Regions from separate parts of the Homo sapiens genome. Here region 2 is linked to region 1. A link means that fine-mapping ties the variant in region 1 to the expression of a gene that starts in the linked region. Tissue or cell type: whole blood. Region 1 holds a variant in brackets; the other region holds the start of a gene. All regions are shown on one strand. Distances are from middle to middle.

What was found. PIP is the estimated chance that this variant, and not a neighbour inherited with it, causes the effect.
Region 2: it holds the start of MCM3, and the variant in region 1 is fine-mapped to the expression of MCM3 in whole blood (TOPMed, PIP 0.95).

Annotation. Positions count from the first base shown.
Region 1 is chr6:52,371,780-52,380,399 of GRCh38, reverse strand. The region is part of intron 1 of PAQR8 (progestin and adipoQ receptor family member 8); the gene reads right to left. Among named protein-coding and RNA genes, the nearest start is that of PAQR8, 14 kb to the right of the region's middle. The variant A/C (reference allele first, on the strand shown) is at 4,353.
Region 2 is chr6:52,282,581-52,288,890 of GRCh38, reverse strand. It overlaps MCM3 (minichromosome maintenance complex component 3), which reads left to right and starts at 4,149. Exons shown (of 17, transcript NM_002388.6): 1 at 4,149-4,294; 2 at 5,485-5,597; 3 at 6,030-6,238. The coding sequence starts at 4,217. RefSeq lists a silencer at 1,523-1,592 and enhancers at 3,672-3,871, 4,192-4,271.

The sequences.
Region 1 (8,620 bases):
GAAATGTCCACGTCCACAGCTGCCCACGAATATGTACTTTAAAAGATATACACAGCTTGATTATTGACTGAGCATTGCCATACCACGGGTGGACCCTGGCAGATTTAGACACAGATTTTAATAGTAGCCAAGAGACAAACAACTCCTTCCAGTCTTTGCTCAAATCTCACCTCTTCAAGGAGGCTTCCCAACCACCCTATTGATTTAATACCGCATTTCTACTCTCCCTGGCATTCCACAACACCTAACTCTGCTCTACTTTTTCTTTGTTTTCCATAGTACTACTTATCACCTTGTGACTTAACATGTTATTTTCTGCTCACACTTTAAAAAAATCCAGGCCGGGTCGGGTGGCTCACGCCTGTAATCCCAGCACTTTGGGAGGCCAAGGCAGGTGGATCTCATGAGGTCAGGAGTTGAAGACCAGCCTGGCCAACATGGTGAAACCCCATCTCTTAAAAATACAAAATAGCGGCCAGGTGCGGTGGCTCACGCCTGTAATCCCAGCACTTTGGGAGGCCGAGACAGGCGGATCACGAGGTCAGCAGATCGAGACCATCCTGGCTAACACGGTGAAACCCCATCTGTACTAAAAATACAAAAAAATTAGCCGGGCGCGGTAGCAGGCGCCTATAGTCCCAGCTACTTCGGAGGCTGAAGCAGGAGAATGGCGTGAACCCGGGAGGCGGAGCTCGCAGTGAGCCGAGATCGCAGCACTGCACTCCAGCCTGGGGGACAGAGCGAGACTCCATCTCAAAAAAAAAAAAAAAAAAAAAAAAAGAAAGCTGGGTGTGGCGGTACGCACCTGTAATCCCAGCTACTCGGGAGGCTGAGGCAGGAAAATCACTTGAACCCAGGAGGCGGAGGTTGCAGTGAGTCGAGATCGCGACACTGCACTCCAGCCTAGGCAACAGAGCGAGACTCTGTCTCAAAAAATAAAAATAAAGTAAAATACCTAACATAAAATTTACCATCTTACCATTTTAAGTGTACAGTTCAGTAGTGTTAAATCAATTCACAGTGTTGTGCAACCGATCTCCAGAACTCTTTTCATCTTGCAAAACTGAAACTCTGTATCCATTAAACAACTCCCCATGGCTCCCTCTTCCCAATCCCCTGGCAACCGCCATTCTACTTTCCGTCTCTATGAATTCAGAGAACACTACTCTAGGTCCGTTATATAAGTGGAATCATACAGTGCTTTCCTTTTGTGACTGGCTTATTTTGCTTAGCATAATATCCCCAAGGGTCATCCATGTCATAGCATGTGCCAGAATTTCCTTTTTTTTTTTTTTTTTTTTTTGATAAAGAGTATTGCTTTGTCACTCAGGCTGGAGTGCAGTGGCACGATCTTGGCTCACTGCAATCTCTGCCTCCCACGTGCAAGCAATTCTCCTGTCTCAGCTTCCCGAGTAGCTGGGACTACAGGCGCCCACCACCATGCCTGGCTAATTTTTGTATTTTTAGTAGAGAAGGGGTTTCACCATATCAGTTAGGCTGGTCTCGAACTCCTGACCTCAGGTGATCCACCCACCTCAGCCTCCCAAAGTGCTGGGATTACAGGTTTAAGCCACCATGCCTGGTCAATTTTCTTCCCCCCCTTTTTTTTTAGACAGAATCTTGCTCTGTCGCCCAGGCTGGAGTGCAGAGGCCCAATCTCAGCTCACTGCAACCTCCACCTCCCAGGTTCAAGTGATTCTCCTGCCTCAGCCTCCCAAGTAGCTGGGATTTCAGGCATACACCACCACGCCCAGCTAATTTTTGTATTTTTAGTAGAGACAGGGTTTCATCATGTTGGTCAGGCTGGTCTTGAACTCCTGACCTCGTGATCCGCCCGCCTCGGCCTCCCAAAGTGCTGGGATTACATGCCTCAGCCACCGCGCCTGGCCAATTTTCTTCCTTTTTAAGGTTGAATAATATTCCACAAAATTTTGTTATATCTGGAATGGGGTATATTTGATGCCCACTTGATAACTCTGCTTAGCTGTAACAAAGATACCTCAAATGAACACTACCAAAAGAGAATCAAGCTTCTTCCACTAACCCTACTTCTGTCCTGTGCTTCTTGTTCCTATCTCAGTAAATGGCTGCACCCAGGTGCTCAAGCCAGAAACCAGAGATATAGCATTTCTTCTTCACTGTTACTGTTCTTTATCCAGTTGCCAGTGATAATTACTAAAATGACTTACATATATTGAGCACTTACTCTCTACTACACATGGTTCTAAGGTCATTGCATGTGACTTAAATAAATAAAACATTTACTCCTCTCAACTCTATGAAATGGAATCTACTATTTTTAGCTATTGTACAGATGAGGAAACAGGTGAAGTCCCTTGCCCAAAATCCAGACAGGAAGTGGTGGAGCCAGAATCTGTGCCCAGGTAGTCTGGCTCCAGAGCCCACACCCTAAACTTTTATGCTATTCAGGAAATGCTTTCTGTTTCAACCTCGTTTATTGGAAATCATTCTACCAATGTATTAGTCCACTTTCCTAAATGTGTAAGTGAACATAATTTTGTCCAGGTCCTTTATCTCTTTCCATATAAAGTTTGGCTAATAGAGATACCAATGCGAAGAAGATAGGACTGTGTCTATGGTAAGCCTAGGAAGTTTTGGTTAAGAGCAAAACTTAAAGGGGAAGTTAAGTTTCCCCTTTAAGTTTTGCTCTTAACCAAAACTAAGTTTCCCCTTTAAGTTTTGCTCTTAAACAAAACTTCCTAGGCTTTTGGGAAGTTGCTTCTTAAACAAGTCCCAAGGATGTTCTCCCTGCGAAATTGCTCTTAAACAAAAGTCCTAATAGCATTTGATTTTCCTGTGTTTTGATATTTTTTTCTCTAAAGTGGAATATGTCAGCAAGTCAGTTTACTTGAAGACTGTGATTAATCAAAGCTATAATGTAGCAGATACAGTTATTAATATCAACAAGGTACATCAATCATAAACACCATTAAAAAACTTAAAACTTTCCTTCTTTGAGGTTGCATTGATCTTGGAGGCAAAGTGGGCTGGAAAGCAGACAGTCCAAGCCTGAGTCCCATCAGATTAAATGAATCATATACTTAAAATAAACCACAATCCTTCTGGTACCAATAATGCCGTAAACTGAAAATAATAATAAAGGCCAACTACTTAAGATTTCTGAATTAAAGTTGAAAAAAAATGAATGCAATTACAAGGAGTAAGATGAATGCAGGTCGAGAAAGTGTCACTTTTCCATTTTAAGCTTATTCAGTGTCTAACAGCCAATATTATATAAGTTTACCATCGAGTTAACATTAAAATACGATGCATTTTAAAGCAAAAGTGTGCCTTTTGAAGTCCCTAAGGTGCCTTTAGAAAACAGAGGATACAGTACCAGCAAGAAGCTATTTGGGCAAGTCCATAGATCACATGGGCTGGGAAGAGACAAGCACTCAATGTTACCAGAAATTCAAGGTCAGCACTTGCAGTTTCATTTCCATCACCCCAGCACTCCCTTTGACAAAGGATTATAGTATCTACTGAAAAGTTGCATTCATTCCCAACTTGCTATTTCAGCCTCAACCACCACTCATCCCTCCAGAGAATTCAATTACTTTCGCATTCCCAAATAACAAGCAAATGATGATTTGGGGGGCCTCTTTTTATATGACATCCAAAAAGATGCAGAAAATAAAGAACAACAGTAAGCCAGAAGTGATTTCAGCTTAAGTATGATTTTTACATACGCATCACTAGACAAAAGTATACAATTAATGGGGTGGGGGTAAGCTCTAAATCTTATCTAATTTTTAGAAAATACTTTAAAAATACTTGGCTAATCTAATATTTTGTCTAACCTATATGGGTTTTTCTTCCTGCTTTTCCTCACCCCATATCCAATATTCAGTTGAGACTTCCAAAATGGAAAAGTATCTCTGCCTGTCCTTGCTCTGAAATCAGAGCATTCCAAAATGAGCCTCAGTTTGTCTTTTCCTTGCAAAAGAATGTACTGTTGATTAAAACAAGAGAAAACCACACCAGTGCATACACAGTCTGATCTTAACCACCCAGAAAGCAGCCTGGCATCCTCTGTCAAGCCTCTTAGAGACAGGCAGGCCTGGAGCAGCCCACACAGCTTCTGCCTGCATAGCCTACCAGCTCACAATGATTTTGGTGACTACGGACTGGCCTAAGCCATTACTGCTGTCCAATACATTGTCTAAAATATGGTCATGAACACTTAAAACCTCACCAAGGAAGTCTTGATGCTTCATACGCATTATCTTAATACTCTCCAAATTTCTTCAAAAGAGAACTACTATGTGACAGCAAGTTAGTTATAACCAGGCACTAAGTTTTTTGCTTTCCCATCTCATTAAACTACACAT[A/C]ATCTAGATTCAGTTTAATACAACTGCTATACCAGAGTAGGAACAGGACAGGCTCTGGGTTTCAATTCCTTTTCTTCCCCTTCAGCACTGCATTAGCATTTTTCTTCCTTAAGAATGATTTGATTTAGTCTTACTGACAAACCACTGAAGGACCTACTATAAGTTGCAAAGGGAGAGTTGCAACTTCCAAATCTTCCATGAACCATCAGTGTTTAAAGCATCCCAGCCAGGCATGGTGGCTCATACCTGTAATCCTAGTGCTTTGGAAGGCCAAGGCAGTAGGATCACTTGAGCCCAGGAGCTCAAGACCAGCTTGGGCAACACAGACCCTGTCTCTACAAAAGAATAAATAAATAAACACATAAAAATTAGCCAGGAGTGGTGCCATGCACCTGTAGTCCCAAGTACTTGGGAGGCTGAGGAGGGAGGATCACTTGAGCCCAGGAGGGGAGGCTGTAGTAAGCTATGATCAGATCACACCATTGCACTCCAACCTAGGTGACAGAGTGAGACCCTGCATCTTAAAAAAAAATTAATCAAAAAAATTTTGCTTTCTCTTCTGTTTTCCAGAGAGGGTTTGGCATCTATGTGGTAATGTCAATGAATGAGGAGATCTGCTCCCTAGCTGTTAGGGACCTAATATGACCACAGGCTAAAGAGCTCACTGAATTTTAGTGCAGGAAGGGCTTTATAGACTACTTATTTAGGAGATGGCAAATAGATTTCACTTGTCATGCCAACCTCTATTGCTTGGTAATGGCTTCCTGAAATCACGTGTTGAGCAGCATTCCAGGCCTGGACTGGAGTTTAGAGGGCAAGGTGTTATGGATTTACAATGTCTGCCACAAGCTCTTGAGGGAGGTGGGGCTCAGGAGGGAACAGTGGCACAGAGCCATATATTTGCCACCCCCGAGCTGACTCTACTATAGACAACTAAGTGACTTGTCGTCTACTGTTTTTCCCACTAAACGTTTTTAAAAAGTAGTGATCATATCAATAATAAAAAACTATTTCAAAATATTTGCAATAACATATCTTTAAATAAAATACATTGTCCCTGAAAATGTATTTCCCTCATTATCTCTAATATTATTATATTAATATAATATTATATTAATTATTATCTCTAATAATAATGAGGTCCTCCTTGGCATGTCCCATAGAGAGCCAAAGGTGGAATTTCTAGGCTTTTCTTCAATTGCATCCTGACAACTACCATCTTCTAGAACTCTATGAGTAAGATGGTTAAAAAAAGAGCTAGGAAGTTCTCCAGCAGTTATATGGCTTCTGTGATGGGACAGGACAGGTAAGGGGGAAGAAAAGGAAACAGAGGTTTAGGAATCAAGCAAATACCTATAGGCTCATACCTATAATCCCAGCACTTTATGAGGCCAAGGCAGGAGAATGGCTTGAGCCCAGGAGTTCAAGACCAACCTGGGCACCAACATAGCAAGACCCTGCAAAAAATTAGCTGGGCATCGTGGTATGTGACTGTAATCCTACCTAATAACAAGGCTGAAACAAGAGGATCACTTGAGCCCAGGTGCTCAAGGTCACAGTGAGCTATGATTACACCACTGTACTTACAGCCTGGGCAACAGAGTAAGACCCTGTCAAAAGAAGAAATGAAAGAAACGAAACAAAACGAAAAGAGGGAGGGGAGGAGGAGGAAAGAAGCGAGTAAATATCAGTGCAGTGATCCCAATGACAAAGGAAACTATTAAGCAGGAAAGTCAATGTGATGTTTTGATAGGAAAAATGGAGAACCAAAGTTTCTTGAACTTGACTAGTGTATTAGCCCATTCTCTCATTGTTATAAAGAAATACTGGACACTGGGTAATTTACAAAGCAAAGAGGTTTAATTGGCCACGGTTCTGCAGGCTGTACAGGAAGCATGATGCTGGCATCTGCCCACTTTCTGGGGAGGCCTCAGGAAGGTTACAATCATGGCAGAAGGCAAAGGGGGAGCAAGTACTTCACAATGCTGGAACAGGAGTAAGAGAGGGAGTGGGGAGGTGTCACATACTTTTAGACAACCAGATCTCATGAGAACCATCAGGATGACAACTTCAATGGGGATGATGTGAAGCCATGAGAAACTGCCCCCATGATCTAGTCACCATGCCCCACTTCCAACACTGGGGATTATAACTGAACATGAGATTTGGGTGGAGACACAGATCTAAACCGTATCAACTAGCAAAGCTATCTTGATCAATTAGTCAATACGATTTATTTACTTGCTGTCTGCTCTGTTCTTAATGCTGTTATGGACCAAGTGGACACATCTGAGGAAAAAAAAAAAAAACAGATCCTTTTGTAGCCAGCTTATCCAATCTCTCCCTCTACCCTAAGGCAATCTTGGACACCCAGGCCAGGTCAGATCTCTGGAGAGGCAGAATCAGCCTCCCAGTACCTACTCAGTGTTGGCAGCCAACTGGCTCCCAGGTGAGGAGAACATTTCTGGCAGTAAAAGCAGTACACAGCAGGCAAGAGACCCTAAGAAAAAGCAAGGGAGAGGAGAGAGGCATGTGATTCCGGAGACAAATAAACACAATTAGCTGTGCTAGAAACAAACTGAAAAGACTCAGTGGGACGGCTGATTCCTTCCGCCAAGAGAAAACCAAAGGAGAATTCATTTAAAAGAAACCTTTTAGTTCCCTTGGCAGCTATGGCCCAATGACAGTCGTATTTTCTATTAAGTCCTTTTCATTGTGGATTTCTCCAAGATTTAAAACACTATCACAAGAAGGGTTTGACTGCTTTATCAGTTTTGCTGCCCTAATAGAATCCATTAATATTTCAGGCTGGTCCTTTCTTTCTTTCAGACGGGCCTTTCACAGCTATTCTGTCCCTGTGTACCTAAATGAACCCAATTTGCAGCAATGGGAAAATGGTTGAATTCATAGAAATCAACAGTCATGTCCGTGGGAGTTTGTTAATCCCAGGATCCAATTCTGTAATGCAAGGATTAGCTACAACAGTGGGGTCTGGTAGCAACCATGTAGCATGGCAGTAAACAAGATGGGCTTTGGAGTTAGGCAACTTGGATTTGAATCCTGACTCCGTCAGTTACAAGTTGGGTGACCAGGGGCAAGTAATTTAAACTCCTTGTGTCTCAGAGCCTTCATCTGTCAAATAGGGATATAGTGATATCTAACAGTGTTATTGTGAAGTTTAAAGAATTATAATAAAAGGGTCCTTACCTTTTGGAAACACATTTTAGAATGTTCACAAATAATATGATGTCTGGGATTTGCTTTAAAATAATCTGAAGATATATATATATATATCCATATATATATATATATATGGAGTTGGCCATGAGCTAATAATTACTGAAATTGGTTGATGGGCACATGGGGATTTATTATACCATATTGTCTACCTCTGCCTGTTTGAAATTTCAATAACAGAAAGTTTAAGAGAGAGAGAGAAAGAAAGAGAGAGAGAAATACATGTAAAACTCTTAGCACACATGTGCTCATTAAATGTAATCTGTTGTAGATCAGAGGTTTTGAGGGCATTGTTTCCAGGTCACAGAGGTGCCAAGAGACCAGCCTGCCTCTCTAGAAACATGGGTGGGTTCTGGGGCCAACATGAGGGAGTTAAACACATGGAGAACTTCACTGTCACTCTAGATCATCCACTACTGCCCAACCTTTTCACTATCAGTAACAATAAGTTGATCATTATTGGTTCTCTATGCTTTGGAAGTTTACTAAATCTCACATCCTTCCAATATTCATTACCTAGATCTTTTACAGATATACAGAATCAGAGTTCCGAGTCAGCTTTAGTTGAGCTGGTAGTGGCTCCAAACTGAGCTACTGTCATTTCCAGCCAAAAGCTAAGCATTTCCAAGTTTTAATGGCTCGTGCAGCTGCCTGACAGACATGTATGTGGTTTCACAGGCATACAAAATAGTGAAAAAATGTTCAATGCACTCCATGCCTCCAGTGGGTTCAGGAAACCACTTACATCAATTCAGAGCCAGCCCCAGAAATTCCCAGCTTCTAGGATTTCTTAGATAGAGTGCTGAGCTGGACAGACAGGGAACTCCACCCTGGAGTAATGCCAAGCTAGATATGCACTCCAAGGAATCCCTTAATTAAACCAGCATTTCCAAACACGATTTCATGCCCCCACACAAACAAGGCATCTGCCATCTTTGCTCTGACACTAACTTTAAGAGCCCTTGCACTAGCCACTTCATCTCTGTTTCATTTGTACTGGGATATCTCCCTCCTAAGGTTGTTGCAGGGAC
Region 2 (6,310 bases), 90 kb after region 1:
GGAGTTCAAGCCTGACCAACATGGTGAAACCCAGTCTCTGCTAAAAATACAAAAATTAGCTGGGCATGGTGGCGCCTGCCTGTAATCCCAGCTACTCGGGAGGCTGAGGCAGGAGAATTGCTTGAACCCGAGAGGTAGAGGTGGCAGTGAGCCGAGATTGCACACTGCACTCCAGTCTGGGCGACAGAGCGAGACTTCGTCAAAAAAAAAAAAAAAAGAATGGGGGCTGGGCATGGTGGCTCACGCCAAGGTGGTAGGATCACTTGAGGCCAGGAGTTTAAGACCATTCTGGGCAGCATAGTGAACCTATCTCTCAGAAAGAAAAAGAATGGGGATGACTTCTTACGGACTAAGAAATCAGATTACTGAAATTAACCTTGGCAAATACCAATGAATCACTAATTGTTGGCAAGCCAACTGTGTTGTTATATTTAATGGGAAAATCATGATCACTGATGTTCTCTGTCTGGCTCCTGGATTTTCCGGCTCTTTTTAGCATATCTAACCGGAAGGACTCCAGGAAGCAACAGAAGAGTGCAAAAGGGAGACAAGAAAGGTGATCAGACTCGTTTATTTATTTATTTTTTGAGACAGAGTTTCACTTTTGTCACCCAGGCTGGAGTGCAATGGCGTGATCTTGGCTTATTGCAACCTCCGCCTCCTGGGTTCAAGCGATTATCCTGCCTCAGTCTTCCAAGTAGCTGGGATTATAGGTGCCGGCCACCATGCCTAGCTAATTTTTTTGTATTTTTGGTAGAGACGGGGTTTCACTATGTTGGCCAGGCTGGTCTTGAACTCCTGACCTCAGGTGATCCACTTGCCTCGGCCTCACAAATTGCTAGGATTACTGGTGTGAGCCACTGTGCCGGCTGACCAGACTCTTTTAAAAGAGTTTTATAAAGGAGTCCATTTAGTATTCCATAATGTTCTTTGAGCATGGAGTAAATGCATCTGATGGCTTCCAACACTGTCGGAATCCGAGCCAAACAACACCCTGCCTATGTTATTTTTTTTAGCCAATTGGACTTCCAGCAGAAAAAGGTCCCACTCAAGGAAGTGTCTGGGTTGGTTGTATTGTAAGTTTTTTGGTGGAAGTGGGAAGGGGGTTTGAATTTGGTTGTCTGAATTGTTTCAGAATGCACTACAGTGCTTCCTCCCCTTCTCCTATCCCTTGACTCCTCTCCAACTACCATTCACCACCACTACCAATGGTTAACATTTATTTAATGCTTACTACATACCAGGCACTTTTTTCAGTAGTTTACATCTGTTATGACTTCACTGGATACTTAAACATTTGAGTTAGATACTACTAACCTAATTTGAAAGGTGAAGAAACTGAGGCACAGAGTGGTTAAGTAAGTTGCCTAGTCGTGCAGGTAATATACAGAGCAGCCAGAAAGAGTAACCAAATCTGCCTGTCTTGGTGCTTGAAACTCTAGATGCTACAGCATCTGAAGATTCTGACTTCACACTGCAGAACTGTGAGGTTAGGGCAAGCCTGTGCCTACAGATTATTCCTTGAGCTGCTGTGACACCTGGAGGCATAGATTTGCTCACCTCCAAGCTTTGGTGGCCTTTGAGTAAATGTCAAAGGACTGCTAATGAATTATGGCACTTTCCTGAGTGCCTAAACAAGTTATTAATTACAGGGTATTATTTGAAATGTTTTGCAACATATAATGTTCATTAGTTTGAACAAAGGTATATATAATTTCTTGTAATAATATTTATTATGGATTTGTATTGTGTCTTTGGGTATTTTTTGGACCCTGAGGACATAGAAAAATGGCAGTATTACATCTATTTTGCAATCTCTTTGCAATCTTGTTTTCTTTCCATTCTCTTCCTGTATACTCTGCTCTCCAGGGAGCCCCCTAGCGTTTAGGCAGCCTTGGAGATGGGCTTGAGTCCATTAAAGTCTAGGGTGGAAAGAAAATTGAAATGGAGGAAAGCAGGAATGTGACCCAAGTATGGAAACTGTAGATACACTACTTTATTAGATTATATGTGCTTTTTAATTTTGAATCAGGATAGAGGAGGACTACGGGCTAAGCTCAGCTGGACTTTTTATGAGATATGTACAAATGCCCCTAATTTTTCTGTAGCAACAACCTGATTGATTTTGGGCAGTTTGCAGGTGTCGGGGATAACAAAGGAAATACATTTCCTCTGCTTAAAGATTTCATGCCCTAATGAAAGAAGGGAGAAACACCAATTAAATAGCGGTGTGTCCTTCACAGCTGAAGATGATTATATTGGGACAAATCAAGTCTTTATCAAAGACCATGGCATGATTAATTCATTAAATAGAATTGTCTTTACATAGTTTCCAAATTTGCCATTAGCTCATGGAATGTTAGAGTAAGACAGATTATCAGAGATATTCTAATTCAGTTTCTTCATCTTATACTGTATATAAGGAAACAAGCCCAGAAAAAAGTGTGAGAATCAAAGATGTGGTTTTCAGATTTCCACTCTTTTGGACTTTCTACTACAAATGACTCGACTTCTTTGCTAGTTTGAACTAAGCTTCCCGGTTCTTTTAGTGTTAATTTCAAATTGTTTCCAGAGCAGAGGATATCTCAGTACTCTGTCCAATAAGTTCATAAAATAAGAGTTATGAGTAAAAAGTCTTAATAAATCAGTAATTACCTCTTGCTATATAACGGCAAACAGTATCTTTATTCTAGAATTTTCTTTTTTTTTTGCCCGTTAATAAACATAAAAGCAAGCAGTCAAATGACAGCCTTTTTGCTTTGGCTAAGGATCGATTTATCTGCCCACTAGGATGGCACAAAACATACAGTAACTATAAACTGAATAATAACTAGAAATACATATACCCACACAAATAGATGGCCTATATATTTTGTTTAGGCAGATTATTCTTAGAATATTTATCAGTACATAGTGAGTCCTGAAGACTTTAAAACATAAGCTAATAGTTGGCTGAAATTTCAGATAAAGAATTATCAAATGTCTGATGTTGGGCAATCCAGTATTTCAGCTTCTTGTTCAGTAAAATTAAAAACACATGCTGGGGCAATGGGCTTGCTCTTTATTGTGCAGAGTGGTTACATGGGTGTAAGCACAGGTAAAAATTCACTGAGCTGTACACTTAAGATTTGTGCATTTTACTGTATATACATTATATCTCAAAATAAAACTAGAAATATAAGAAAAAGCCAACCACGACGGACTGAAAACAAACATACAAATTTGGACGTGCGATGATCTTTTAGTCATTATGGTTTCAGATTTGCTGTTAGTTACTGATTGATATTTAATCAAAGTGACGTGAAACACTTTTTCCCCTCTTGAGCTGATCGTTCAGTAAGCTAAGTTACTTAAAAGGATCTTGTGATCTTTTTATAAGACCAGAAAGCCTTTAATTTACCTGTTATTAAGTAAGATGGAGTAGTAACGGTTTCCAAAATTTGTATAACACACGATGAAGTCTCTAGGGGGCAGGGTAAACACAGATTTTTTTTTTCACTTCATCCTTCTCTGCGGCGATGTCTTTATGGAGTTCGTCAGGCAACGGTATCAGATAGCAAATGGGTTTTTAACTAATCTTTCCCTAAGGTACTGTAGTTCTATATTCTATCCTATAGATTCTCAAAATCCACTTTTACACTAGGATGCCACTGGAGGGCAGTTCTGATTTGGATATATCTTAAAAATGATTTGCTTTTATGTTTTCATCTCCCTGCGTTATAAAGCACCATCCTCTGAATTTGGTCGTTGCATCGGGTCAAAAGTTCTGCAGCTTGAAAAACCCTGCAAAAACATCCGGAAAGGAGGGAGAACACTACAACTCCCAGAACGCAATGCTTTCCCTCTCGCCAGCCTGTCCCCTCCAGCTGCTCAATGACCAGCCTCTGTGAGCCTCCTCTCAGCCCTATTGGTCAGTTTGCTCGTCAGTGAGTGAGGCGGAGGGAGGGGAGGAACAGAGAATCCCGGATGGTACGTTTCCCGCCACCGCGGGGCGCGCAGCGGAAAACCCGAAGAAGAAGAAGCTTTTGATTGGACAGTCGCTAGTCCGACCTCAGAGAACTCAGCCAATCATAATGCTTATATGCTCCCAAGGTCCCCGCCTCTTCCTCGAGGTAACCTTTGGTGGCGGGAAGAGTTCGGAAGTTTTCGCGCCGGGGTGGAGTCATCCTGGGAACCTCCACGCGACTTTGGTGGAGGTAGTTCTTTGGCAGCGGGCATGGCGGGTACCGTGGTGCTGGACGATGTGGAGCTGCGGGAGGCTCAGAGAGATTACCTGGACTTCCTGGACGACGAGGTGAGGGAGGCGCCGGCGCGCGGGCTCTAGCGCTCGGAGCCCCTGCGGACGCGGCCCGGCCGGGAAGCCAGAGGCCCGCCAGACCTCCAGACCGTGTGCCGCAGCGGAGCCTGCCGGGCCCGAGCCTCCAGCCCCAATCTTGTAACTTCTCAACGCCGGACTCGCTAGTTTGTGTTCGATAAGTGAACTCTTAGGAAGCCAGCTTTCTCTTAAGTACAAGCGATGGTCCGGGCGCGCAAAAGGCGACAGGTTCCCATTAAGTGCAAGCAGATTGGCAAAGCCCACCTCGGCCTTTTGCATTTCACTGCTCTCTCTTGATTTGAGGAGACTGTGGGGGAGGGGCTGCCCTAGGGCTATAGTGACCAGCCGCGTTGCAGAGTGCTCAGATTTTAGGGACTGACGTTTTACCTGGAGGAAAAGACTCCATAATTCGGCTGCATTCTTTTTCAATACCAACTAAGATGCAGATAAAAAGTGTTTTGTGTGCAGGCCAAGGGGATTTTATGTGCAACCCAAGACTTAAAGCCATAGAATGTTGAAAAAACCATCTTGAAGGGTTGATGATGTGACCAAATAGCTGAGATTCTCTATTCCTTTAGGTCGGGGTATGAGAACCCTTTCCGTATTATAGAGATGATTGGAAAAAATATTACTTTTTACATAATTCTTAAATGAAAAGCCATTTTAATGTGACTATTAAGAGTCTGTTTTATTTACATTTTTATTGTATATATTTGAAGTGCACATGTTTTGATATACATGGTGAAATGATTACTACAGTGAAACAACATATCCATCTATTCACGTTGTTACCTTTAACATTCACATTGCTAGGTTTAACTTAACATTTTAACAAAGTTTGCACTTACTGTCCATTTAGACTTCTCATGAGCTCATTTTAATTCTCCACTAAAGACAGAAATTACAGCATGCAGAAAAGTTGTCCATGATGATGGGAATAACAGCATGGACCTTGAGGAAGTCATTATAATTCTTATAGTCCCCTCTTAGGGTGTTATTTCGAATCTAAAAACAGTGAATGAAAGGGAGAAATTGATGAGCACATACTTACTGGGGATTCAGCTCTGCTGCAGAGATTGACTTAGCTATCTGGCTATGAGAACTACTTCTGTTTAGAAACATTGTTTTTAAATTTGTGGCTATGGTGATATGTGGTGGCTGTTTTGCAGGAAGACCAGGGAATTTATCAGAGCAAAGTTCGGGAGCTGATCAGTGACAACCAATACCGGCTGATTGTCAATGTGAATGACCTGCGCAGGAAAAACGAGAAGAGGGCTAACCGGTGAGAGGCAAGGGGATATACTGGCTGTCAGTGAGAATGGCTCCCTTCCCTCTTGGCCAGATTGGAACAGCCTCTCAGGAGAGGACTTGTATGAAACAGGATTGATCTACAAGCCCTCGTAGCTCACCTGCACCTATTTTTTTTTTTTTTTTTTTCAAAAAGTGGGTGGTTGGCATTTTCCTCCCAAATGCCCCTCCTTCCAATGTTTAGCTGAATATCATTTTTATATCTTTGATAAGTTGAGGTGAAGTTGGTCCTTAGTTCTGGTATTTTACTGAGTCTTATAGGATGGTGTTTTACTGAGACTTATAGGAGAAAGCAGAAGCTGGATTTTCTCATTGTTTTTAATGATCTAAGAATGTCTGCTGTTTTGAGGATCCATTTTTTTGAGTTCTGCCCAGTCTAATTTTTCTTTCTCTTGCTTATGTACAGGCTTCTGAACAATGCCTTTGAGGAGCTGGTTGCCTTCCAGCGGGCCTTAAAGGATTTTGTGGCCTCCATTGATGCTACCTATGCCAAGCAGTATGAGGAGTTCTACGTAGGACTGGAAGGCAGCTTTGGCTCCAAGCACGTCTCCCCGCGGACTCTTACCTCCTGCTTCCTCAGCTGTGTGGTCTGTGTGGAGGGCATTGTCACTAAATGTAAGTGGGTTAAAGGGGGCCGCTTAGGAAATGAATAGACAGGGAGATGGGGAAAGCAGGAGAGGCAAAGTA